Linked DNA regions of Homo sapiens. The protein of the gene in region 3 purifies or fractionates together with the protein of the main gene of each other region. This does not show direct contact. Each region holds a gene or a part of one and is shown on either strand. Other genes may lie near its edges. The genes, in order: DNM3, PRMT2, THRB and SMC1A.

Region 1 (6,370 bases), on a different chromosome or scaffold from region 3:
CCAGAAGAAAACTATGCACAAGCCCATGCTGAATGGCAGAATCTCTTGTCTCTAAAAGTTCAGTTATTGCCTTTGTAATATTAAAGCCCAACAGGGAGCTGGCGGGACACCTTTTGTGCTGTCTTGTCATGTTATAGGTTTCTGGTTTCAGATACAAGAGGAGAAAGGACCCTTAAGAAAGTAAAAAACTTGAAAAAAAAAATCAAACTTCCTTCTCTGAAAACAAAGGGTTGTTTTCCCAGAGATGATGGATAATGGCATTTCAACTTTCTAAGTTTTTGATAGAGAAAATGGAGGCAAAGCACAGAGGGGAAATAGAATATATTAAACAAACAGAATAAGGTGAAGTTTCAACAAGCGCTTCTCTCAATTTCTTTCTTTCTCTCGTTCTCTCTTCCTTTCTTTTTTTGAAATCTTAAACCCCATTTCTGGCTTGTATTTGGTAGGATTCCTGCTCTGGCTTTTATTAAAAACAGACTTTATGTGGTCAGAACTCTCCATCTAAAGCTGGATTTAACAGGCATGGGGATCCTGACAGAGTCTTTCTTGCCCTCTCTCAGGTGACCACCCCTCCCCCAGCCCCCTTCCCCGGGATTTCCCTCCCAAAGCGCTGAACCAGCACAGAAACTTGAAGGCTCAGCACAAAACAACAAACTTTCCTCTTTTACCCTGTACTTTCATTTCTGTTTTAAATTTGGGACTCTTTGCATGGCCAGATCAAGTAAAGTCTGGTTCTAACTTGAGAGTATTCTAGAAATTTCAAATAAGGCAACTGTCATCCTATAAATTCCCTAATGTAGTCTCATTAAGCCCTGCTGCCCATGTGCCGGCCATCCAGCTCGGGCTACTCATTCTCATCCGGCTGCCTTGTTCGTGCGAGCTGGAAAATACTAACGGCAACTCCACCCTGCTTAACAAGTCAGCTTAGCATTCAAAAGTTGATTTTTCTGAAGGGTACTGGCAAGCTAGCTCATCTGAAACCCACAGGTAAAGCAGTCAAGCAAGCAGGCAGAACATGCATGTTCATTCCCCAGGACAGGCACCACCAGTTTGCTCTGGTTTTTTCTCACAGCTAGACAGACAAAAGTAGCTCCTGCATGGCACTCCAGCCTTCCCACTCTCAACTCTTCCTCTTCCAATGGCCTCAATACCTTCCTGGTACAATGGCAGACACTTTCCTAGTCAATTTGAGGTTTTCTAAAATAATAAATTGGATCTTGCTTGTAGCAAGGCTCAATGCGGAAATTCATGGTTTTACATGGAAGGGAATTCTTTTGAATACTACAGTGCAGTGGTTCTCACGTGGAGAGGAATTTTACTCCCCTAAGGGACATTGGGAGTGTCTACAGATATTTTTAGTGGTCACAACTGGGGACTGCAACTGAAATCTAGAGGGTAGAGGGGAGGGATGCTGCTAAACATCTTACAATACACAGGACAGCCCTCCACAACAAAAACGTCAGTACTGATGAGGCTGAAAAACCCTGGGGTCATGGTCAGGAAATGGCTTTGGAAGCAGACTGCATGGGATTAAAGTCCAGCTCCACTAGGGACTGGCTGAGCAGCCTTGGGCAAGCTGTTTAACCTCACTGCCTCATCTGTAAAATGTGGATAACAACCTATTTGTTGTGAGCTTTAAACAAAAATGTATATACAAAGTTCTTAGGGCAATGCCTAGTAATATTGAGGGCACAATAAATGTTGGCTATTGCTAGTACTGCTATTACTAGAAATTTAGCACCATTCCAAATAATTTATAAGCCAAGTCTATTGAATTTAGAGAAAAAAAATTGGATTGAGAGTGTGTATATATCCTCTTTGCTTAGGACCAAAATGATAACAGTGGTAACAACTGTAGTCTTTACAGTGTATCAAACTCTTTCAAATACCTCATGTCATATGATCTGGGGAACAACCTTATTGAGTTCTCCCTGTTTCATAGATAAAGAACTCCCGTCTCAGAGTTAAATGAGTTGCCCAAGACCTTCAGTAACCCAGGTCTTCTGACTGCAAATCTCCTGCCTATTCTTGCTGTACCACCCTCTGTGTACTAGCTTAAGATCCCCCTTCTTCTCTTCTCTTCATTACGCTTAACAACTTGAAGATTAAAATAAAACGTAAGTGCCATAATCAGTTGGCAAGGTGGCTCAGGCTTCAGGGATGGGTAGAAGTCACATCTGTTTTTATGGTTCATATACAGTCAGATATTCCTTCATGGAGTATATAAATATTTTAATTCTCTGAATTGAATTTTTTAAAAATTAACTTTATATATGGGCTAATTTTCTTTCCTCTTTATATTTCTGATTTTGAGGGGGAAAAAAACCTTAGTACTTTATACCTTAAAAATCTCTGATTCTATTCATTGTGTATATTTTGACTGTAAGTATATGAAGGTGAGACTACAGCTCCAACTATGTGTGTTTCTAGGTCCATTATTTATTAGCTATATTGTTTCACAATTAAGCCTGAAAATCCACTTATAATTGTCAACACGTATTATTCAGATGTACAATGATCTATCTTATATATGATTAGTGACTGTATACAACAATCATGCCTATATTAAAATTTCTATGTGTAGTTTTTAAAAAAACAATTGCAGATCAATCAGCCAGATTTATTCAGCCTATATGAAAATTGGTAAAATTGAGTATAAGGATCACAGTTCAGAAGGCAGATGGATAAAATTCTCTAAGTCAGTGGTTTTCAAGAATTCTTTTGATAATGGAGAAGGCAAGACTTTAGTCCATGGAACTCTCATGACCTATAGAACACACAGCTTGCTACAATCCTCCATAGCTCTTTTGTTTCAAAGCCCTCAAATTCTCCCAATAGCTGCCAAAATGTCATTCATTGGGACGGAGTGTTCTTTAGTCCTATTTAGTCTGTGCCAATTGATAAATGAGAAATTTCAATGATCACAAGTGATTTTTAAATGGCATAACAGGGTTGGCAATTTTCCTATAGTCTCTGTTCATTGTGAAAACTGCAAACACGTACGATAAGATCTTTGCAATTTTCTCTTTCAAATAAATTTTGTCTGTCATTCTATGAGAAGAGAACCAAGGCGCACTACCCCCCCAATTTCTGCTCCATGCCTTACCTTGGGACACTGGGCGGGGCCCTCGTAGGCCTAGATGGAACTTGTGGAGGGGCTCCGAAGGAGTCACTGCTGCTGGGGAAAGGAGGTAATGGGCCTGGACGGAATGGGACTGGAGGAGCCCCAGAGTGGGGGCCAGGAGAGGGAATGGCAGGAGCTGGTCCTCGGCCGGATGTGGGCCTTGCGAGGGGAGCACTTAGTGTTGGCCTCCTTTGGGTTGTGGGGCTTGGAGGAGGTGACCTGAGGAAAAAGAGAAATCATAGTTTGCTCACTCCTCCTTTCTGTCTGAATTAATCTCTAAAAATGTTTTGTAACTTCCTGCTTTTTAAAAATTATTTTTTGACTGAATAAGTCCAATTCATGTCATGAAAGTCAAAGGGATAAAAGGGTAAATGGAGAAAAGTAAGTTTTCCTCTCCCTACCCCTTCACTCTGTTGAAACAACTATAGAAGTTTCTTGTGCATCCTTTTTAACTGTATTCTACATTTGTATAAGTATATATTTTCTCTCTCTATATATAAATTGCTTTTCTGTATACCATAGAACACAGTCTTCTACAACCTCCTTTTTTTTTTCTTTGAGGCGGAGTCTCGCTCTGTCACCCAGGCTGGAGTGCAGTGGCGTGATCTCGGCTCACTGCAACCTCTGACTCCTGAATTCAAGCGATTCTCCTGCCTCAGCCTCCCGAGTAGCTGGGATCACAGGTGTGCGCCACCACCCCCAGCTAATTTTTGTATTTTTAGTAGGGACAGGGTTTCACTATGTTGGCCAGCCTGGTCTCAAACTCCTGACCTTAGGTGATCCGCTTGCCTCGGCCTCCCAAAGTGCTGGGAATACAGGCGTGAGCCACCGCGCCTGGCATACAACCTCCCTTTTTTTTAAAGCTTCCCGTTAACTGGATTATCTTTTCATTTTAGGACTTAATAGAACTGTCTTGTTCTTTTTAGTGACTATATAACATTCCATTGTGAGGATGCACTGTGCTGCATTTTTAAGGGAGTTAGTATAATCTGATCCTTACTCCTGAATGTAAATATCTTTTCCCCTTTTTCTGTAGGTCCATCTTGGTTTAGGAAAGCACTCTCAGAAAATGATATTGGACAAGCGTGGCAGGGCTCAGGGGTTGTGGGTGGGTCCATCTTCTTTTTTTTTTTTGAGACGGAGTCTTGCTCTGTCACCCAGGCTGGAGTGCAGTGCACGATCTCGGCTCACTGCAAGCTCTGCCTCCCGGGTTCACACCATTCTCCTGCCTCAGCCTCCCGAGTAGCTGGGACTACAGGCACCCGCCACCACGCCCGGCTAATTTTTTTTATGTTTTTAGTAGAGACAGGGTTTCACTATGTTCGCCAGGATGGTCTCGATCTCCTGACCTCGTGATCCGCCCGCCTCGGCCTCTCAAAGTGCTGGGATTACAGGAGCGAGCCACCGCACCCGGCCGGGGCCATCTTCTTACCTGCGAGAGTGCTGTATCCAGGAGTCATCCACTGGAGGGGGTGCCGGAGTGGACACGGTGGCTGTGCTGATGTCCCCAATTATCCCAAGGGCTTCTTTCAGTGCTTGATACATTCGAAGCATCTCATCCCGGCGCTGAGCCTGCTCAGCAGATTCCTCCATCAGGGTATTTTGGTCCTCTGAAGAATACAACTGTGCTAGGAGCTCGGAATTTATGAAATCTTTAACCTGTCAGATCACCACAGAGAAATAAAAATGGGAATAAATGAGTGACTGAGTGGAGGTAGAAACATGGCTGTGGCAGTCAGAGTCTGGACAAAGTCCACCAAAGTCCACCAAAGTCCACCCTGGGAAAAGTGAAGCACCAAGCGTCTGTTTACTTTTGTTTTGTCTCTATCCCCAGTACTGGTGACAGTAACAGTTTCCCTCTGTCTTTTGGCTGTCCACACTGAAGGATGATAGAGATGAGTAGAAGAAGGCCAAACCCAGCCATCACCAGAACAGGGCCTGCTGGCTTTGTGAGCATTTCACAATATTGTCTGGAGCTGTTTGGCTTATAGAAGAGGGAAGGTACTATGAGGTAAGAAGCAGTATTTTCAACAGAAAACAGTGATGTGAAGAAACCTATGTAATCACACGTTTTCCATTCCTTGGCATTCGCAGTCCTTTCCCTAGCTTTTACCAAAATCACTGGAAAATTATTGAGATGCCAAGTTTCAGTGTCGTCTCAAAAGTGAAATTAGCACCAGTAAGTGAATATTTATTAAATACAGAATCTTATATAACTATGCAGGTTGATTTATAAACAAGTGAAAGAGATGCACTCTGTTTTCCAGAAGTTTACAATAGAAGTTAGTTAACAGTGATGGGGACTGACATGAGGTTGCATAGTTAGCTAATATATAAAAACAAACTAAAGTATGAACACTATGTGGGAGTCTCAGGGGGAGGGGCATTTTGTTGCAGGATGAAAATGGAGAGGATGAATATGGTGCACAACACTGAGAGTGGGAACGCCAGCTACTGTATCTCATCAACTCTAAGACACCAGTGATTTTAAGAAACACTACTATCATATGTGCTGACTATTCAGACAAAAAAAAAATACCATCAATCAAACTTTGACAGGATGTCAAGATGCCATTGAGTATAAGATGCATCTTCATTTCAGAAATATTAAATAAAAAGAAGTGAATGTGAGAATCGATGAAGTATGGTATATACCAAGTGGCTTCATAAGTTATATGACAATTCTTATCACACACTGAAGAAACATGTATTAGTATTCCAGTTTTATAGATACAGAAACAAGTTCCAAGAATTTAAGTATCTTGTGCTAGGTCACACAGCATTCAGTTGAATCCATAACCTTCTGACTTGAAGTCCGGTGCCCATTCCCTTACCCCATTATCTCACTGTGATTGAGTGCTTAAAAAAGTAAATTTTTGTTTAAGTATCATTATTTTACAGTAGTGCAGCAATTAACTTAAGCCTAGTAAAAATAAGCCGTTTGAATTTTTCAGTTTCTCTGTTACATGAGAAAGCTAACTCTTATCTAGACTCATGAATATCTTTAAGAAAGGCCAAACGCAAGTATATATTTAATTGTTAAAAAATCAGGCAGATAACAGAACAGCTGTCAGATGCTCCAAATTTCTAGGATATGGTTAAATTTGTAATTCAGAGATGACAAGAACCTAAAACACATAGCTTCATTATGTTTTAAAGGCATCAAAACATGTAAATAATTCTACTAATCAAAAAATTCAGCTAAATCAAAGGTTTATTGTGGTGAAATAAAGTGTTTTCTGTACA
Region 2 (5,846 bases), on a different chromosome or scaffold from region 3:
GCAAGGTCTTGTTGTGTTGCCCAGGCTGGTCTCAAACTCTTAGGCTCAAGTAATCCTCCTCCCTTGGCCTCCTGAAGCACTGGGATTACAAGCACGAGCCACCACATTTGGATGAGATGCCTTTTCTAATAACCATGTATGAAACTGCACCCAGACCACCAGCCTCCATGTCCATGACAGAAAATCCTGACACAGGCTGGGCACTGTGGCTCACGCCTGTAATCCCAGTACTTTGGGAGGCCAAGGTGGGCAGATCACCTGAGGTCAGGAGTTTGAGACCAGCCTGGCCAACATGGTGAAACCCCGTCTCTACAAAAATACAAAAATTAGCCAGGTGTGGTGGTGCATGCCTGTAATCCCAGCTACTTGGAAGGCTGAGGTAGGAGAATCGCTTGAACCCGGGAGGCAGAGGTTGCAATGAGCTGAGATCACGCCACTGCAGTCCAGCCTGGGCAACAGAGTAAGACGCCGTCTCGAAGAAAAAAAAAAAAAAGAAAATACTGACACAGCTTCTTCACAGCTTGATGCTTGATTAAAAAAAAAAAAAAAAAAAAAAAAAAAAAAAAGCCACAGAAAGGGAAAAGATTTATTCACAAAAATATATGTGTTACAGGACTCAGCCAAATTATATCAGGAACACCTGGAATCTCAATTAGAAATAGAAAAAAAAAAACCCTAATAGTAAAATGGGCCAAAGACTTAAACAAGCACCTCAAAAACAGGATATCCAAAATGAGCGGCAAATCTACAAAACTGGATTAGTCATCAATGAAATGTATACCAAATCCACACGCCCACCAGAGCAGGTAAAATGCAAAACACAATACTGGGTGTTGACGAGGATGCCAACTCTCATGCACAGCTGGCAGGGATATTAGATTCCTTGACTTGAAAACCTGGTATACAGTGTACACCCAACAGAAATGTGTACATACATGCACCAAAACACATACACAGAAATGTCCACAGTCTCAGTAATCATCATAGCTAAACCATGGCAACAACCCAAAAGGACACCATGTGAAACAAGATCATAAACTGTGGTCTATTCATGCAGTTGAATACTATGCCACAATGAAAAAGTCAACCACAACCACACTGTCTAAAATTCATAGATGAGTCTCACAAACAATGTTTAATTAAAGAAGGCAGACACAAAAGAACACGTGTACAACTCCATTCAGGCAAGAGTAATCGACAGTTACAAGTCAGGACATCACCCTTGAGAGGGTGGGCACTGAGTGGAAGGGGAATCGGGGAATCTGTAGTGTGTCCTGGCCTGGATGCTGGTTACATGTGCGTCCACTTTATAAAATGCCATCATCTATGTACCCATGACTAGCACTGTTTTCAATATATATTTGATATTTCAGTTTTGTTTTTTGGGGTTTTTGAGACAGGGTCTTGCTCTGTCACCCACGCTGGAGTGCAGCAGTGCAATCCTAGATCACTGCAGCCTCAACCTCCTGGGCTCAAGTGATCCCCCCGCCTCAGCCTCCCGAGTAGCTGGGACTACAGGCACACGCCACCATGCCCAGCTAATTTTTCTATTTTTTTTGTAGAGATAGTATCTCGCTGTGTTGCCCAGGGTGGTCTTGAACTCCTGAGCTCAAGGAATCATCCCACCTCAGCCTCTCAAAGTGTTGGGATTACAGAGGTAAGCCACTGCACCCAGCCTATATTTCAATAAAATTTAATAAAAATCAAAACAATACAAAAAAAAATTATGGACATGTATCTACTGATGTGGAAGTTTTTTCACAATATTGAGAAAAACTTATAAAGCAATGCATATAGTATGATCCTGTAATTACAAAAAATAACATATATGCATAAAACAGGATACACAATGACATTCACTCATTTAAAAATATTTATTGAGCATGTGCGATGGACCAACACATAATTTATTTGGAAGACGTCTACACAACTGTACTATCCCATGCAGAGTCCCATCGCATACATCACCACCTTAGCTCGCACGCTGAGCCAGGGCAGTGTTCCCTACACGCCACTGGCACAGCCCTGTGCAATCCTACGTCCCACACGAGTGGATGAGCGACGGCAGTAAGGGCACCACTAACATAGGAGGTGGGGACAGTCACTGTCACAGGGTACACGGGCTGATATGCGTGCGTCCTAGGAGTGTAGACCTAGACCTAGCTTAGGAACATGGAGCTCCGACCCAGCCACGGGTCGGCACTGTGGGCACCACGGGTGAACACCTGGAAACACAGCCTACTTCTAGAGGGCAGACACTGGGCAGCGGGGGTGGCCACGGCAGCTCCTGCCGAGCCCAAGCGTGTTTGTCTGTGAAGGACCCTGACGTCACCTGCCAGGCTAGGGAGGGGTCAATGTGGAGTGAATGTTCACCGACTTTCGCAGGAGTGTGCAGAAGCCAGGTGCAACTTGGTTTGCTTGTGTTCATCACCCCTCAAGATATGCACACTGCTTTCCAAATAAAGCATCAACTGTCATCTCCAGATGGGGAAGACTTTTTCTCCAACCTGAAAAAGATAAATGACAACAGGTCAATCAGATGATAAATCATTTGATTAACATACTACATTTCCTAATGGTTTAATATTGGACAAGAGAACAGTATTCAGGTGCAGAATTTTTTTAAATGACAAACTTTTAACAAAAACTTATCACAAAGCAAAGCACAAAACAAATATAAAAAATGAAGGAAAACCATTTATTTTTATTTTCTTTGCCACATTAATCCTGAGCCCAAAGAAGAACATTCCATTTTCAGCAGCCTCTGAGACAGGAAGCCCAAGTGAGCTGGGCGAGCTACACATGAATTCACACACGGATCCGAAGGCTGCCAGTCAGAACACGCATCACAGACGACACGCCTAGACTAACTGCTGCCTGGGAAGCCACAGAGGCCTGTGTAAAGGGAGCGCCAAGGCACAGCTCAGGCTTCTGTCCATCTGGGGGACCCTCTGGACATGGCACAAGGGGCCTCAGGCTGATGTGGGTCTCTGCTCTCCCTCACTTACCGTGTCACCTGAGGGAATGACTTCCCTGACTTCCCTTCCAGAGCCCTCCACTTCCCGTGCTGTCAGATGGGAAATGAAGCCAATGACAACAGGCGCTTTCTGTGTAAGGATTAAATCACTCCTGCACAAAAGGCGTGGACCCCAGTGTGGGCCAGCATCTGCCATCACTACCACCACCCAGGCCTGTCTCCCTGAGGACCGGCACCCACAGGACAGAATCTTACAACTACGTATCTTACTTTTTGAGATGTGGGGTCTTGTCTGGAAGTGACAGCCCAGCTCAGAGCCACAGACATGTGCCTTCTCCACACTGGGTTTCTCTGCAACACAACTGAACCCGTGACCACGTCTCCTGTATGGACAGGGACTGGGTCGTCCATCATGAACAGCGTCTGCTTCCAGTGTGTGGTGCTGCAAGACAGGGGTGCGTGTGACCTGGAGGCTGAGCTAGGGCAGTCTCCACATGGCCCTCGGGGCGCTGACTCAGGCTCGCACTGGCTCTCGCCCCCAACAGCACCCACACAGCCGGCAGTCCACCCTGAGGGCCTGGGGACACAAAGCTTGGCTTTTCAGGCTAACTCAGGGAACATATACACCCCCAGCCCTGTGATCTAAAGGGACTCTATGGGATACACTGGGATCAAAGTTACGCTAGTGAGACAGATCCTGCCAATGCCAAACACAAGCTTGCTCCTGAGACCACTCAGATTCCAGGAGGTGTGGACGGCTCACCCTGGGTGGCCCAGAGGATGCGGGAGCTCAGGGGACACACAGCTGCACTAAAGGTCCCGTGTGGTGTCGACTCCCCGGCCCGCCAGGAGGACGGCTGTGCAACCCCTTCCTGCACCCTTGCCTAAGCTGCAGAGGCTGGTGATCTAGCTCCTGCTGTTAAACTGTGGTGTACACAGACAGAATCAGGTCCAAGGAGTCGCTTCTGTGAAGGTTACAAGGTGAGGACAACTGTCACATTTGGGGGGAAATAGTAAAACGCTATGATTCTGCACTGGGTTGCGTTGGAAACATCTCTAAGTTCCTCAGGCTCTGTCTTCCCTCAAACTCCCACTGTCCACGGTGGGGCCAGCAGTGAAGTGGGGGGCTCCTCAGGTCTCCAGTTTTTCCCTGACTCTGGTCACACCCCTCACCCCAGCCTGTGCCCCAGGTCACTGCCCCCTCCACGCCCCCAGACTCGGGGATGGGTATAACTGGCCTCCAAGCTGCCCACCTCCACCCGGTGATGGCACTGGAGGGGCCACCACAGGACTCTTGTGATGGGGACCACATGCCAGGCCAGGCCATCAACCCCGCACCTCTGCGACCTCCCTGGAGCCGGGGTCCCCTCGCGGGGCCACCACGCTGGGAAGTCAGCGGGGCAGGTGCCAGAGCGGGGTAGCCAACCCCACCCAAAGGGAAGGCCTGCAGGGCCCTGAAGGCAGCTCCACTGCCACACATGCCCAGGGTGCTGGCGGGGAAATGTGTCCCAAAAAACAGGCACCTCCAAAAACGTCAGGTGAACCCCGACGCCCCGTGGAGGCGCTTTGGGTCAGACCATGAAGAGCTGTGGTGCTCCTCGCGGGGTGGAAGACAGGGAGCTCCTCCCGTTGGGGCTGTTGTCGGAGGGACGCCCAGGCTGGGCCCAGAGTGGTGGCGAGACCCGGAAGGGGGCACACAGGCTGCGGTGTCTACACCACCCGTGCCCCCATGCGCGCCGCCCCCACCCCACTGCCCGCGCCCCCACGTGCCCCACCCCCCCACGACCGCCACGCCGCGTCCCACCCCCTCCTGCGCGCCCCATCCCCGCACCCCGCCTACTCCCCTGCCCCCCACCCCGCACCCCGTGCCCGCGCCCCGCACACTCACGGGTGGAAGGGCCCGGTGCTGAGCACCTGCGGCGGCTGCCCCTCCTGCAGGCTCTGGAAGTGGACGCTAAACCAGGCCGTGAAGCCGTGCAGGGTCCCCGCCTTCCTGATGTCGAAGCGCAGCTCGCCCCTCAGGGTCTGGGTCAAGCAGATGACAAGGCACGCGTGGGCACCGCGTGGCACCGCAGGGCCCGGGTTGGGGCGGCCCCCTCCACGCGCCCCGCGCAGACGCTGAATGCGTCAGGAACCGTAGAAAAGCCCCCCAGCCTGGGGAAACCACCCCCAAAACCCGCATCGTGAGTTCAGAGGCTTCAGTCAGAAACGTTTCAAGCATCTGAGCTTCTTGCGCCCAATTTTCTACCCCAGATTCTGCGGAATCTTTTCGGCGCTCAGCTCTTCCAGTTAAGGAGTTGGAGAGCTCCAGGCTGGGCCTTTCCACAGCAGAACGAACTAAAAACCAAAGCGCGCCGGCGCCACCGCGCCCGCCCCATCTCCAGACGCGGCGCCAGCTGGGGCGCCAGGCAGGGCGGGGGCGCGGGGAAACCGCCCAGAGCCCACGAGCGCCACCGCGCGGCCACAGACAGGGATTCACGGAGGGAATTCTAACGATTCTGTCATGAAGAGTGGCTTAAAATACTTGAAAAAAACTGTAATGCAAATACCATAATGAAACGAAATATAATTTATTTGATTTTGAAGATGCTGAGAATATTAAACATAAATCTAAAATGAAGACGCTGGAGACATAAAATGGTGTACAATATGAAAGAATCAAAATAGAACGTAAAAAAGAAAAAAGACTGGAAAAAATCAGTAGCAAACGTTTTATAAATTCACTTATTTGCATAATAAAATAATTAGTTATTCACTCACACCCCCAGCACTCACTGAAGGTTTTTGATAAGCCAGGCTCTGGTCTGAGTGTTTCGTGGTCACTGATTATCGAATGTAAGGAGCAATTCATCTTTTTCTCACCTCTAGA
Region 3 (6,370 bases):
CGACTGGGCAGAAAAGAAGGCAGGAACCCAAGAAGACAGAGAAGGGAATACCTTACTTTCGCATACACCCCTCACTCCCCACATCCAGGCTTGCCCTGAAAGGGAGGTGGGAGCCATTGCTGGGTGGGTTCCATCCTACCCTGTCATACCACCTCCTAACTGTCAAAGTATGGATGATGGAGGAGGAAATGCAGTTAAATTATCCCTATCACATTTGCAGGCCTAGTTGTTAGCAACACTCTGTTTGAGACAGAGATTACAAATGAGAGGTCTGGTCCATTTACCTTGATAAGGTATCATTCTATACACAGTGTTCACATGGGGTAGAGCCTCAGGGACTAGTCCTAATATTTTTTCAAGAGCAAAGACAGGAATTTATTTTATGGACATTTTTGGAGATGGGGCGCTGGCAGAAAACATCGTGTTCAGAAATTTCTGAAGAATGCAAAGTTGAGTGCTATTGCATGAGTCATCCTGCAGTTGGTTGTTTGTTATATTTTTAGCAATAAAGACATTCCGAGCTGAAGTCGTCCTACCCAGTTTTCAAAGTGCTACAGCATATGGTGGCGAGATTAGCCCTTGGGGTCTCTTCTCCCCACACTGTGCGAGGGATTTACACCAGTCACTTTAATTAATCTAATCATAAAAATAAGAATCATGTCATTCAGAATGTGTGGCCTCCCTTTTGCCAGGCATCAGTATTAATGATTCTACTGGCATAAATTTTTTGCACATCAGTGAGAGATTCCAACTATTAGTTAAAAATTAAAAAGAAAAAGAAAGATAAAAAATGAAGAAAGAAAAAAGAAAATACAGTGAGGATTTTTCCTGATGAAAGAAGTAATCATGACTCACATTTTATGTGAGAAATAGAGTTCTTTCACTGAGAAAAAAAAATCTGTGAAATGTTCTGGTTTGCCCATTAAAGAAGAAGGAATGGAGAATCTTTAAAAAGGAAGAGGGTTATGTTAGAGTGTTAGGCTGGAAATCCTGGGTTAATCCCCACCTCTGGCTGAGTATTTTCTTTATCTTTATCTCTTAAAGGCCTTTAGCCCTTGCCAACAATATGCCTGATAGGGATATGTGAATATGATTGACTTACAGCCAAATACTTAGATATGCCACTATGACAAACTTATTATTGATTATCTATTTCAGTGTTCTATTGAGAAGTTTAAGATACTAGTGTCTATGAGGTTTAAAAACTCAGTGTTAATCTAGACTGTATGGAAATAAATTTTGAGTGCCCTTTACTTGCTTGTGAGGGATTCTAAGAGCTCAGGCTTTCTAATCAGAAAAACTTCTGTTCGAGTCCCAGATCTGTCACTTACTAGCTGTGTGACCTTTGGAATTAAGCTGAGATTTTCCTTCTGTGAAATCATTGCCTACCTTGTAGAGTTGTTTTCAAGATTAAATTAGATAATGTTCATCAAATACAACAGTCCCTGGCACACCGGAAGCATTTGGGAAGGGGTTGAGGGTATTATTACCATTCCTCCTTTCCCTTTAGTAACTGAACCAAAATGACTTAACAGGGCTCATTCATATTTTCCTCATTTGTAAGCGCTCACATGACTTTGACAATCCAATCAAATCTAAATGGTCTGGAATTTAATATTCTCTTTAAATTAGAATATTTAAATGGGAGACTAGCTAGGCACCTTGGTTCTCCTTCTCTTGCTATGTCTGCTTTTTTTCTTTTCCTACCAGGTCACACCTTCATCAAGAAATGGCCCTAGGACAGTGATGTCGTAGAACTGGAGTCAGGAGTCCTGGGTCTTGCCTTGGCTCTGCCATTAACTTGCTCTGTGACTTTAGGCAAGTCACGACCTCTCTGGATCAATTTCTTCTTCTTTCTGTGAAAAGACAGAGTAGGACTAGATGACGTCTAAGTTCCCTTCCAGTTCTAAAATACTATGACTCTGCAATGTAAAACCTGAGCCTTTCCATTCCATTGATAGTTACCAAGTCTAGTGAAACGGTTTTGGTTTTGGAAATTGACCACAGAAATATAGGTTTCTTGTTACCTGCCCTTCTGATTTTCCTTTCACCCAAATGATAGAAGTCAGGACTGCATTTACTGAGCACTTATAATGCATTATCACATTGAATACTCTGTGAAGTGGGTATTATTGAGCCCATTTTGTATAGGAAGAAATGAAAGCTCAGAGAACCTAAGGAACTTGCCAGAGGTCACACAGCTAGAATGTAATAATATCAGAATTCAAACCCAAGTCTTTCTAGATTCCAAAGCCTGGACTCTTTAACCACCCTTGAGGGTGGACCAGGTAGAGAATAATGTACAGTGAGTACCTTGAGGCCCAGGTGAGGCCCAGCCACATTCCAATTAGCCCTTAAGGGAGCCATGAAGAGTTGGGGTCCTTTTTCCTCTTAAAAAAAGGGATCACGAGCCTCCCACTTACTGCTCCATAACGTTTCTTTTTTTAATTCCATAACGTTTCTTTAACCTGAAGTTCTCTTTACTAAGAGCCGTTTTAGGGGAAGCGGGGAGGACAGAAACCCAGAGAGTGAATTCGGATGACTGGCTGGACAGATTTCTCTGTGATCTTGTGGGTAGTATGGATTTTACCTCTCTGCTTCACTCTGTTTTAGAACCACCTTCTGTGGAGTTGGAGTGCGCAGTGTCTAGGTTCTCTGGGGACTTTGTTTTGAAAAGCTGGCCGGTCATGGGGAGTTTGGCTCTAGAGACCATGTTGGACAAGACTAGTCAATGGCAGTTTGCTGGTGAGGAGAGAAACTGTCCCAGTGTGACCCACCCCGAAGGACCCAGTAAGCCATCTGTGCATCAGTGGTCCCACTCCTGAGGCTCCAGGAAGTGCAGCTTGCTGTGTATCTTGGGAGCATCTGTGTGCCTTGTCTCATCTTTCTCCCCCTCCCAGTGGTGCTGGATGACAGCAAGAGGCTGGCCAAGAGGAAGCTGATAGAGGAGAACCGGGAGAAAAGACGGCGGGAAGAGCTGCAGAAGTCCATCGGGCACAAGCCAGAGCCCACAGACGAGGAATGGGAGCTCATCAAAACTGTCACCGAAGCCCATGTGGCGACCAACGCCCAAGGCAGCCACTGGAAGCAAAAACGGAAATTCCTGGTAAGGCTTCCTTGCACAGATCAGTTTCACTTATATGCCAGTGTTTTCTACCTCAATTTATTCAGTCCTCATCACCTTGGGATACTGGTGTTATTGCCTCATTTTACTGATAGGGAAACCGTAGCTCTGAGAGGCTGAGTAACTTGCAAAGCTAGGATTTGAGTCTAGGTCTGTGTGAGAATAAAGGCCACTCCTACCATCTACTTTGTGATTTGCTGAATTCTAAAACAGTTTCTTAGGCCACATTATATCAGTTTGCTTTTACTGTTAGAAAGACCACTCCCAGACCAACTAATTAGTAAAATGTTTTGTCTGCCATCTTTTACTTTCTATACCCATTTCTTTCCTTAGATGCCCAGTATATACATATTTAGTCCCTGAACTCAATCCCAAATATTCCCTTTATAATAGCCTCTAGGCCTCAAGTATATTTTTATGTCAACAGAAGTCAAAATTTTTTAGCTTAAATTAAATGAGCTTGACTCAAGAAGGGCAATGGGAATGAGGGAGTAGGGATAGGGTTGGTGGGCACGAGTGTGTAGAGAAAAAAGACCTTCCAGACCCTTGCAATATTGATGTTTAATATTCTTATAAAAATTACCAGTTGTGAAAATTCTTCCCATTCATTTTTTATTCAGACTTCATAGTGTTTTGAGGTAAGCTGGAATTACTATCCCCATTTTACAGACATGCAAACCAAGCCCAAGGCCTTAAGCCGCTTGCCCAGGATCGCACTGCTAAAAGCCAGGCACCAAAACCAACTCGGTCTTCTGGTTCCAAGTCCAGGCTCTCCACCCACCTCATTAGAAAGACTACGTGCCCTACTAGTGCTGGACCATCTCAGAGACTGACTCTGCTCTTAGTTTATGATATAAAACCCTTTTCAAGTACCTACCTGACAACAGATATTCTGTGGTTTCATTTGTATCCCTAGGACACATTAGAGTACTTCCCCATCTGAACAAGAAGATATAGTGGTATAATTATCCTTGTACCTCAACATTAACATTACAATGAGATAGTGGATCTTTTTCTTAAAACAACATAACAACAACCTTAAAGGAAGTTTTGGAAAGAAAAGGCTTATACATAATTCACCTGTACTGACACAATTACTTTCGTTGTAATGAAACAATAGTGCCAGCACTTTGTTGATGGCTTTCACTAACAGCAATGTCAGCAAATACCTAGATGGCCTTTACCATATGCCAGGTACTATTCTAAGTGCTTTTCATTCATTAACTTCCTATACCAATCCTGTAGGTAGATGTGGTTAATATCTCCATTTTACAGAAGAGAGAAGTAAGACACAGAAGTTGAGGAAACTTGCCTGAGCTCCCACAACTGGTAAACAGTGGTGATGGATGCAGCCAGCTCCGGGATTTATGTCTCTATCCACTACCCTATGCAATCTTGGCACCTGCACAAACCCAAAAAGCCTCTGAAAGATCCCAGCTCTTTGGAGGAGCAGCCTCTCAGTGCCTTGATCTTGCATCTTCACCCCACCCTGGTATATCTGCCAGAAAATTCAAAAGCACTAATTCTGGATTGATAGACAAATTCTAACACAGTACACTTGGGGCATAGCAAGACAGAGTCCTACCTAATTGCAAACTTAAATCCATCCTTTCCCCAAATGTGTCACCCATAAATGGACATTGTAGAAACCACTTCCAGGCCTGGCACTGTCTCCTGATTTCAAGTCGTGACCAAGCTGAATTCCAAGTAAGGTAGAAGATTTGAAGTTCATCCTGGACTTCTCCCGGGAATTTTATACTTTTATTGTCTTTACTCCCCATAGAGAAGGGATACTAGTCCAACTAAACTTGTTTAAGTAGTCATAAGGTGCTTCTTTCCAGACTTTAAAGATTTGTTCCTTTATTTAAGAAACATTTATTGAGTGGATACTATGTGCCAGAAAGTAAATAAGTCAGGCACATTCCTCTAGTGGGAGGCAGATAATAAGAGATAAACAAACAAAATAAATGCAGGTAGTGGTAAGTGCAATGAAGGCAATAAACAGTGTGATGGGATGAAGAGTTTGTGAACTGGAAGTGGGGAGAGACTTCATTTCTGTGAACATGGTGGTCAGAAGAAGCATCTCTGAGGAGATGACGTTGTGCTATGTCTGGAAGCAGAGAAACCACCTCTATAAAGCAAAATATAATCAAATATCTTCGTGCTGTGTGGTCACAATATCTAGTCATTAGAACCAGTCTTGAGGTCTGCACTGTTCACTTAAAGGCTCCTAACAGTTCACCAGCCTGACCATCTATGGAAAGAATCTATGGCACAGAATGATTTGCCATTAGGCTTCTGTCAGAACCATGAGATTACCCATGCACAAGAGAGTTTTATTCTCCTTGTAGGGCTGACATGAAATGTATCTTTTGTAGATCTTTAATCTGCTCAAGAAATTGTCCATCTTGATTCAAATGTAAATAACTGCTTCTCCGAGCCATTTTTCCCTAGAGGGTTATTGGGAAGGATCAGGACTCTTCCACTGTCCTGTCTGTCTCTACAATGAACTTCATTTCTGTCAGCCAATCCCCTTCTGTGCCTGGGATAACCCCTGCATCTCTTCACAGGAGAACAATGTTCCATTCAGCCTCCACACTTGAGTATCTATGCTATGTGTGATGGAAACTTGTGGCAGCTTTTCTCCAAGATGGCTGCCATCAAATTATTTCTCATCTCTGTATACACAGCCCGTTCTCTCTCTGGGAGAGGTAGAGTCTGTTCCCCTCTCCCCTTGAATCTAGGCTGGTATCTGATGCCTTTAAACAGTGCATTTTGGCAGAAGTGATATTTAAGTTACTTCTAAGGTTGGGTCATAAGAAGCCTTGCAGCTTCCACTTGGGTACCTTGGGGGAGGGAAGCCACCTGGTCTCTCATAGCAGTTGACTATATATTAAAAAATAAGAATAATAAAAAATAATAATAAAGGTCCAACTACTCTGAGACCACCAGGCAGTGAGGAATCCCAAGCTAGCCATGTAAAAAGGCCACACAGAAAGAGAGATTCCCAAGCAGCCCAGGGACCAGAAATATGAGTAAAAAAGCCTTTACATGACACCAGCCTCTACTGCCATTTGATGGCAGCTGTATGAGGGCCCCCTAGCTGTGCCAATCAATCCCCAGAACTCAGAAAGAAAATTAAAAATTGTTGTTTTAAACCACAAAGTTTGGGGTTAGTTTGTTATACAGCAATAAATAACCAGAACAGAACTCGATAAATATTTGTTGAACTGAACATACAGTTCC
Region 4 (6,370 bases), on a different chromosome or scaffold from region 3:
GAGGGACGAGGCAGTAGAGGGAAAGTCAGGATGAAGAGGAGAGGAAAAGGAATAAAGATATTGAGATGAACAAAAATGTCCCCTAATCACTCAGTACTCAGACTAATGGGAAGAGAGACTACTCCTCTGTCCCCATAAAGACTGAGCACAACCAAACCTCTGGGTCAAAGGCTTAGGAAAAACAGTCCTTTTGCAGTTACTATATAGCAGCCAGAAGCTAGAACCCAGGATAAGCGTAGTGACTCACACCTGTAATCCCAGCACTTTGGGATGCCGAGGCAGGAAGATCGCTTGAGGCCAGGAGTTTGAAACCAGCTTGGACAACAAGGCAAAACCCAGTCTCTACAAAAACTTTAAAAATTAGCTGGGCATGAGCTACTCGGGAGGCTGAGGCAGGAGAATTCCTTGAACCTGGGAGGCGGAGGTTGCAGTGAGCCGAGATCGTGCCACTGCACTCTAGCCTGGGCGACAGAGCGAGACTCCATCTCAAAAAAAAAAAAAAAAAATTAGCTGGGCATAGTGGCATGCGCCTGTAGTCTCAGCTACTCAGAAGGCTGAGGAGGGAGGATCGCTTGAGCTCAAGAGTTCAAAGCTGCATGAGCTATGATGACACCACTGCACTCCAGCCTGGGTGACAGAACAAGACTCTCTTTAAAAAAATAGTGAAAAAAAAAAAAAAAGAGGAAAGAATAGTTTAAAAAAAGAAGCTAGAACCCAATCTAAAGAAATGGTATATTCACAGAATGGATAGTTTTACAACCTTTAATGACATGGACAAAAGCCCACAATAGGTGAAACAAACAAGACACAAAACTCAACGATGTTAAAATAATATAAAGTGGGCCGGGCATGGTGGCTCACGCCTGTAATCCCAGCACTTTGGGAGGCTGAGGCAGGTGGATCACCTGAGGTCAGGAGTTCAAGACCAGCCTGACCAATATGGTGAAACCCTGTCTCTACTAAAAAATACAAAACTTAGCTGGGCGTGGTGGCGGGCGCCTGTAATCCCAGCTACTTGGAAGGCTGAGGCAGGAGAATCGCTTGAACCTGGGAGGTGGAGGCTGCAGTGAGCCAAGATCGTGCCACTGCACTCCAGCCTGGGCAACAGAGTAAGACTCCATCTCAAAAAAAAAAAATAAAATAAAATAAAATAATAATAATAATAATAATGTAAAGTAAAATTTAAAAATAGGCTGGGAGGAGGGGAAAATGGGAGGTTTTTTTTTCTTTTGAGATGGAGTCTTGCTCTGTTGCCAGGCTGGAGTGCAGTGGCGTGATCTCAGCTCACCACAACCTCCGACTCCCTGGTTCAAGGGATTCTCCCACCTCAGCCTCCCGAATAGCTGGGATTACAGGCACACATCACCACACCCAGCTAACTTTCTGTATTTTTAGTAGAGACAGGGTTTCACCATGTTGGCCAGGATGGTCTCGATCTTCTGACCTTGTGATTCGCCCACCTCGGCCTCCCAAAGTGCTGGGATTACAGGCATGAGCCACCACGCCTGGCCTGGGAGTTGTTTTTTAATGGGCATAGATTTTCATTTTTGCAAGATGAAAAAGTTCTAGAGATCGTTTGCACAAAAACGTGAATATATTTAACACTACTGAACTGCACACTTAAAAATGGTTAATTTAGGAAATTTTATGTGTATTTTACCACCATCTAAAAAAAGTGCATATTCCTGTTGTGAAACAATATGAAACACACAGCATCATTTATGATGTATCTTACCAAAAATATTTAACCTGAATCTATTTTTTTCCTTTTTTTAATTTTTTGTTATAATAAAGACAAGGTCTCGCTGTGTTGCCCAGGCTAGTCTTGAACTCCTGGCCTCAAGTGATCCTCCCGCCGTGGCCTCCCAAAGTGCTGGGATTACAGGCATGAGCCACCATATCCAGCCTAATCTGAATCTAAACAAGCCTTCAGACTTATCTTCCAGTTCCTAGGAAATACAGCAATACAATATAGAGGAACATAGTAAGGTTTTCATGAGGAAATCTTAACACAAACACAGAATGTGGGATGTTCTCAAAGACAAATGGCCTGGTCTTTTCAAAAAGTCAGTGTCTAAAAAGAAAGGGTGAGCCGGGCACGGTGGCTCACGCCTGTTATCCCAGCACTTTGGGTGGCCGAGGCGGGCGGATCACCTGAGGTTGGGGAGTTCCAGACCAGCCTGACTAACATGGAGAAACCTCGTCTCTACTAAAAATACAAAATTAGCTGGGCATGGTGGCACATGCCTGTAATCCCAGCTACTCAGGAGGCTGAGGCAGGAGACTCGCTTGAACCTGGGAGGCAAAGGTTGCGGTGAGCCAAGATCACGCCATTGCACTCCAGCCTGGGCAACAAGAGCAAAACTCCATCTCAAAAAAAAAAAAAAAAAAAAAGTGAGCGAACCATTCCAAAACATGAGAGATTTCTGAGACATAGGTAAACAGTGCACAAACTTTGACTGGACTCTGGTTCCAAAATAACAAAAAGACATTTGGGGAGCAAGTTAAGGAAGCTTAAATATAAACTGGATAATTGATGACATGAGGAAATTTTCTTAGTTGTGATAACTGAATAGTGGTAGTACAGGAGAATGATGATTTTAAGAGGTGAATGCTGAAGCACTTAGGGGTGAAATGTAATTGAGTCTGTAATTTACTTCCAAATGACTAAGTAATGCACATATATGCTTGCAAATTTTCATAATAAAACTTGGGAGAAGAGAAGGCATAGGAAACAAATATATGAAAACGTAAACAGTGCAGCAGTGATTGCCTCTGAAAAGGAAACTAAGCAGCTAGGGTCAAGGGAGTCTTCTTTTTACTACTGTATATCCTTAAGGATTTTTAAAATTGTATACCATGTACATGTACCAGCTATTCAAATAAATAAGGTTTTCAACATTAACAGTGGCTATCTTTTCAGTAGTGGAGTTACAGCTTTTACTTTGTTCATTTTAGAATCCGAAAACAAAAAAGGTTTCATTTACTTATTTTATTTATTTTTTGAGATGGAGTCTCGCTCTATCGCCCACGCTAGATTGCACCTACCAAGTTCAAGTGATTCTCCTGCCTCAGTCTCCTGAATAGCTGGGACGACAAGCGTGTGCCACCACACCTAGTTAATTTTTGTATTTTTAGTAGAGATGGGGTTTCATCATGTTAGCCAGGCTGGTCTCGAATTCCTGACCTCAAGTGATCCACCCACCTCGGTCTCCTAAAGTGCTGGGATTACAGGCATAAGCTACCACGCCCAGACCTTATTCATTTATTTATTGAGACAGGGTCTGACTCTGTCACCCAGGCTGGAGTGCAGTAGCAGTATCACAGCTCTCTGCAGCCTTGACCTCCTTGGCTCAAGTGATCCTCCTGTCTCAGCCTCCCAAGTAGCGGGAAGCATGGGCATAAGCCACCATGCCCAGCTAGTTTTTGGATTTTTGCAGAAGCAGGGTCTCCCTATGTTGCCTAGGCTGGTCTCAAACTCCTGAGCTCCAGAGATCCTCCACCTTGGACTCCCAAAGTGCTGGGGTTACAGGCATGAGCCACCGTTCCTGGCCAAAAAATAGATATTGTTTTAAAAGTTTAGGCCGGGTGCAGTGGCTCATGACTGTAATCCCAGCACTTTGAAAGGCCGAGGCAGGCGGATCACCTGAGGTCAGGAGTTTGAGACCAGCCTGGCCAACATGGTGAAACCCCGTCCCTACTAAAAATACAAAAATTAGCCAGGCACGGTTGTGTGCCTATAATCCCAGCTACTCGGGAGGCTGAGGCACGAGAATCGCTTAAACCCAGGAGGTGGAGGTTACAGTGAGCTGAGATCGCGCCACTGCACTCCAACCTGGGCGACAGAGAGAGACTCTGTCTCAAAAAAAAAAAAAAAAAAAAAAAAGTTTAGTCGGGCTGGTGGATAAGGAGGAACAGTTTAGTCTCTATAATTTCTATCTCAAGACTGTCCCTAAAGAACTTATATATGACTTTGAACTGAAGATCTGATTTCCAACACCTTTCTACTCAGCCATAAAAACAGCAGCCCAAGTCCTTCCATAGAGACGGTATAAGACTATGATTAGGTTGGACACGGCATCTCACGCCTGTAATCCCAGCACTCTGGGAAGCAGACGTGGGTGGATCACTTGACCTCGGGAGTTTGAGACCAGCCTGGACAACATGGCAAAATCCCATCTCTACAAAAAATACAAAAATTGGCTCGGCATGGTGGCACACTCCAGTTGTCCTGACTACTGGGAAGGCTGAGATGGGAGGGTTGCTTGAGCCCGAGAAGTTGAGGCTGCAGTGAGCCATGATTGTGCCACTGTATGCCAGCCTTGGTGACAGAGCAAGACCCTGACTCCAAAAAAAAAAAAAATAGGCCAGGCGCGGTGGCTCACACCTGTAATCGCAGCACTTTGGGAGGCCCAGGTGGGCAGATCACGGGGTCAGGAGTTTGAGACCAGCCTGAACAACGTGGTGAAACCCCGTCTCTACTAAAAATACAAAAACTGGCCGGGCATAGTGGTGCACGCCTGTAATCCCAGCTCCTCAGGAGGCTGAGGCAGGAGAATAGCTTGAACCCGGGAGGCAGAGGTTGCAGTGAGCTGAGATCACGCCACTGCACTCCAGCCTGGGCGACAGAGAAAGACTTCATCTCAAAAAAAAAAAAAAGAAAAAAAAGAAAAGAATCACTTGAACCCAGCAGGCAGAAGTTGCAGTGAGCCGAGGTCATGCCACTGCACTCCAGTGTGGGCGTCAGAGTGAGACTCCATCTAAAAAAGCTTGCAAACTTGGGCTTAGAACCAACAGACCAGGTTCTAATCTTACTTTCACTACCACTTAGCTGACCTTCCATTCCCTCACCTGGAAAAAGATGAAAAAAACCACAATTCACGGGTCTAAAAATATGTGCGGCACATACTTCTCTATTGGAGTGGCAGGAGCACAGGCATGGGTTCTGAGAACCACGGACAAGTTATCACACCTCTGTGCCTTAGTCTCCTCATGTATAAAACGAAGCTATTGGCATTTTCCTCCTAGGGTCATTTTGAGAATTTAATTGTAAAGGGTCCCTTGGCTGGGTGCAGTGGCTCATGCCTGTAATCCCAGCACTTTGGGAGGCTGAGGCAGGCAGATCACTTGAGCCCAGGAGTTTGAGACCAGCCTGGCCAACTGGGAGAAACACCAACTCTACTAAAAATACAAGAACTAGCCAGATGGGGTGGCGCACGCCTGTAGTCCCAGCTACTTGGGAGGCTGAGGCACGAGAATCACTTGAACCCAAGAGGCAGAGGTTGCAGTGAGCCAACATCATGCCACTGCACTCCAGCCTGGACAACAGAGCAAGACTGTCTCAAAAAAAAAAAAAAAGAAAAGAAAAAGAAAAAGAAAAAACAGGGTCCCAATAAATAAAGTACTTGACACACAGAGTAGGTACTCAATTAATTAGTCCTATCCTAAGTCTGGACTCAGCTGTCTCCCTCATCACAGCAGGACTAGCACATCATGCAGACCAGGAGTCAGCCTTTTAGGAACCAATATCCAACCTTTGGGCTTCTCCCATCATTTCCAGGGAGGACAACATCATCTCACAACCCCAAGCCTCTCTAATCACAATCAATATGGTAAACATTTTTGTAATATATATTATGGACTGAACACCAGTAAAACGTTTCAAGGAATGTCTGCTTTAGGGTACTCACAGGCCAATGAAGATACAAAAACATGCACCATCAATATAGGACTTAATAAACATTAACGTGTACCAAGTGTCTACGGTATGCCACAGAGGAAGACTCACTCACCAAAGGGACTAAAGGAATGGCTTGTAGAGGTGGGCCTTGAAGAACGGGGGCAAGTGGGGGAGTGCCATAGCCCTTTTCAGAACAGCTGGGAATACAAATCTACTAATGCTGAGGGGACTGAATGCCAAGAGGTACATCCTAGCTCTTCCAACAGGGGCCACTACACTAAAACCCGAGGAAACTGGGTGGACACCAAGCATTAGCCCTCCAGGCCAGTGGTTCTCAAACAAGTTGGGGGGTTGGGGGAATCACACACACCCTCTGTGACATCTAGCAATGTCTAGAGACAGTTTTGATTGTCATGCCTGGGGAGCAGGGGTGCTACTGTTATCTAGCAGGTAGATGCCAGAGATGCTGTTAAACATCCTACAATGCACAGAGCACATCCCACAGCAAAGGATTATCTCGCTGGAAATGTCAATAGTGCCACTGTTGAGACACTCAGTCTCCAGGAAAGGTACTCAGTATGTGCTACTTCAGCAAGGGCAGCCTCTTAGGCTAGGATATCATTCAGCTAGAACATCTCTGGGGTGGAAGAATACAGCAGGATTCCAAATGGACATCTGAGGTGAGAGGAA

The links.
Region 1: the proteins of THRB (region 3) and DNM3 purify together in Homo sapiens (affinity purification with mass spectrometry; one large-scale study listed by BioGRID and IntAct). This does not show direct contact.
Region 2: the proteins of THRB (region 3) and PRMT2 purify together in Homo sapiens (pull-down; one study listed by IntAct). This does not show direct contact.
Region 4: the proteins of THRB (region 3) and SMC1A purify together in Homo sapiens (affinity purification with mass spectrometry, with the first as the bait; one study listed by BioGRID). This does not show direct contact.

Annotation. Positions count from the first base shown.
Region 1 is NC_000001.11:172,385,546-172,391,915, reverse strand, and holds part of DNM3 (dynamin-3), read right to left. Parts: intron 4,784-6,370; coding exon 4,557-4,783; intron 3,344-4,556; coding exon 3,107-3,343; intron 1-3,106. UniProt on the Homo sapiens protein: Microtubule-associated force-producing protein involved in producing microtubule bundles and able to bind and hydrolyze GTP. Most probably involved in vesicular trafficking processes, in particular endocytosis.
Region 2 is NC_000021.9:46,660,956-46,666,801, reverse strand, and holds the end of PRMT2 (protein arginine N-methyltransferase 2), read right to left. Parts: coding exon 5,840-5,846; exon of another isoform or gene 5,532-5,839; intron 5,003-5,531; coding exon 4,866-5,002; intron 3,420-4,865; coding exon 3,248-3,419; intron 2,508-3,247; coding exon 2,475-2,507; coding exon of another isoform or gene 2,428-2,474; 3' UTR 1,678-2,427; downstream 1-1,677. UniProt on the Homo sapiens protein: Arginine methyltransferase that methylates the guanidino nitrogens of arginyl residues in proteins such as STAT3, FBL, histone H4. Acts as a coactivator (with NCOA2) of the androgen receptor (AR)-mediated transactivation.
Region 3 is NC_000003.12:24,140,237-24,146,606, reverse strand, and holds part of THRB (thyroid hormone receptor beta), read left to right. Parts: intron 1-2,900; coding exon 2,901-3,106; intron 3,107-6,370.
Region 4 is NC_000023.11:53,415,179-53,421,548, forward strand, and holds part of SMC1A (structural maintenance of chromosomes protein 1A), read right to left. Parts: intron 1-6,370. UniProt on the Homo sapiens protein: Involved in chromosome cohesion during cell cycle and in DNA repair. Central component of cohesin complex. The cohesin complex is required for the cohesion of sister chromatids after DNA replication.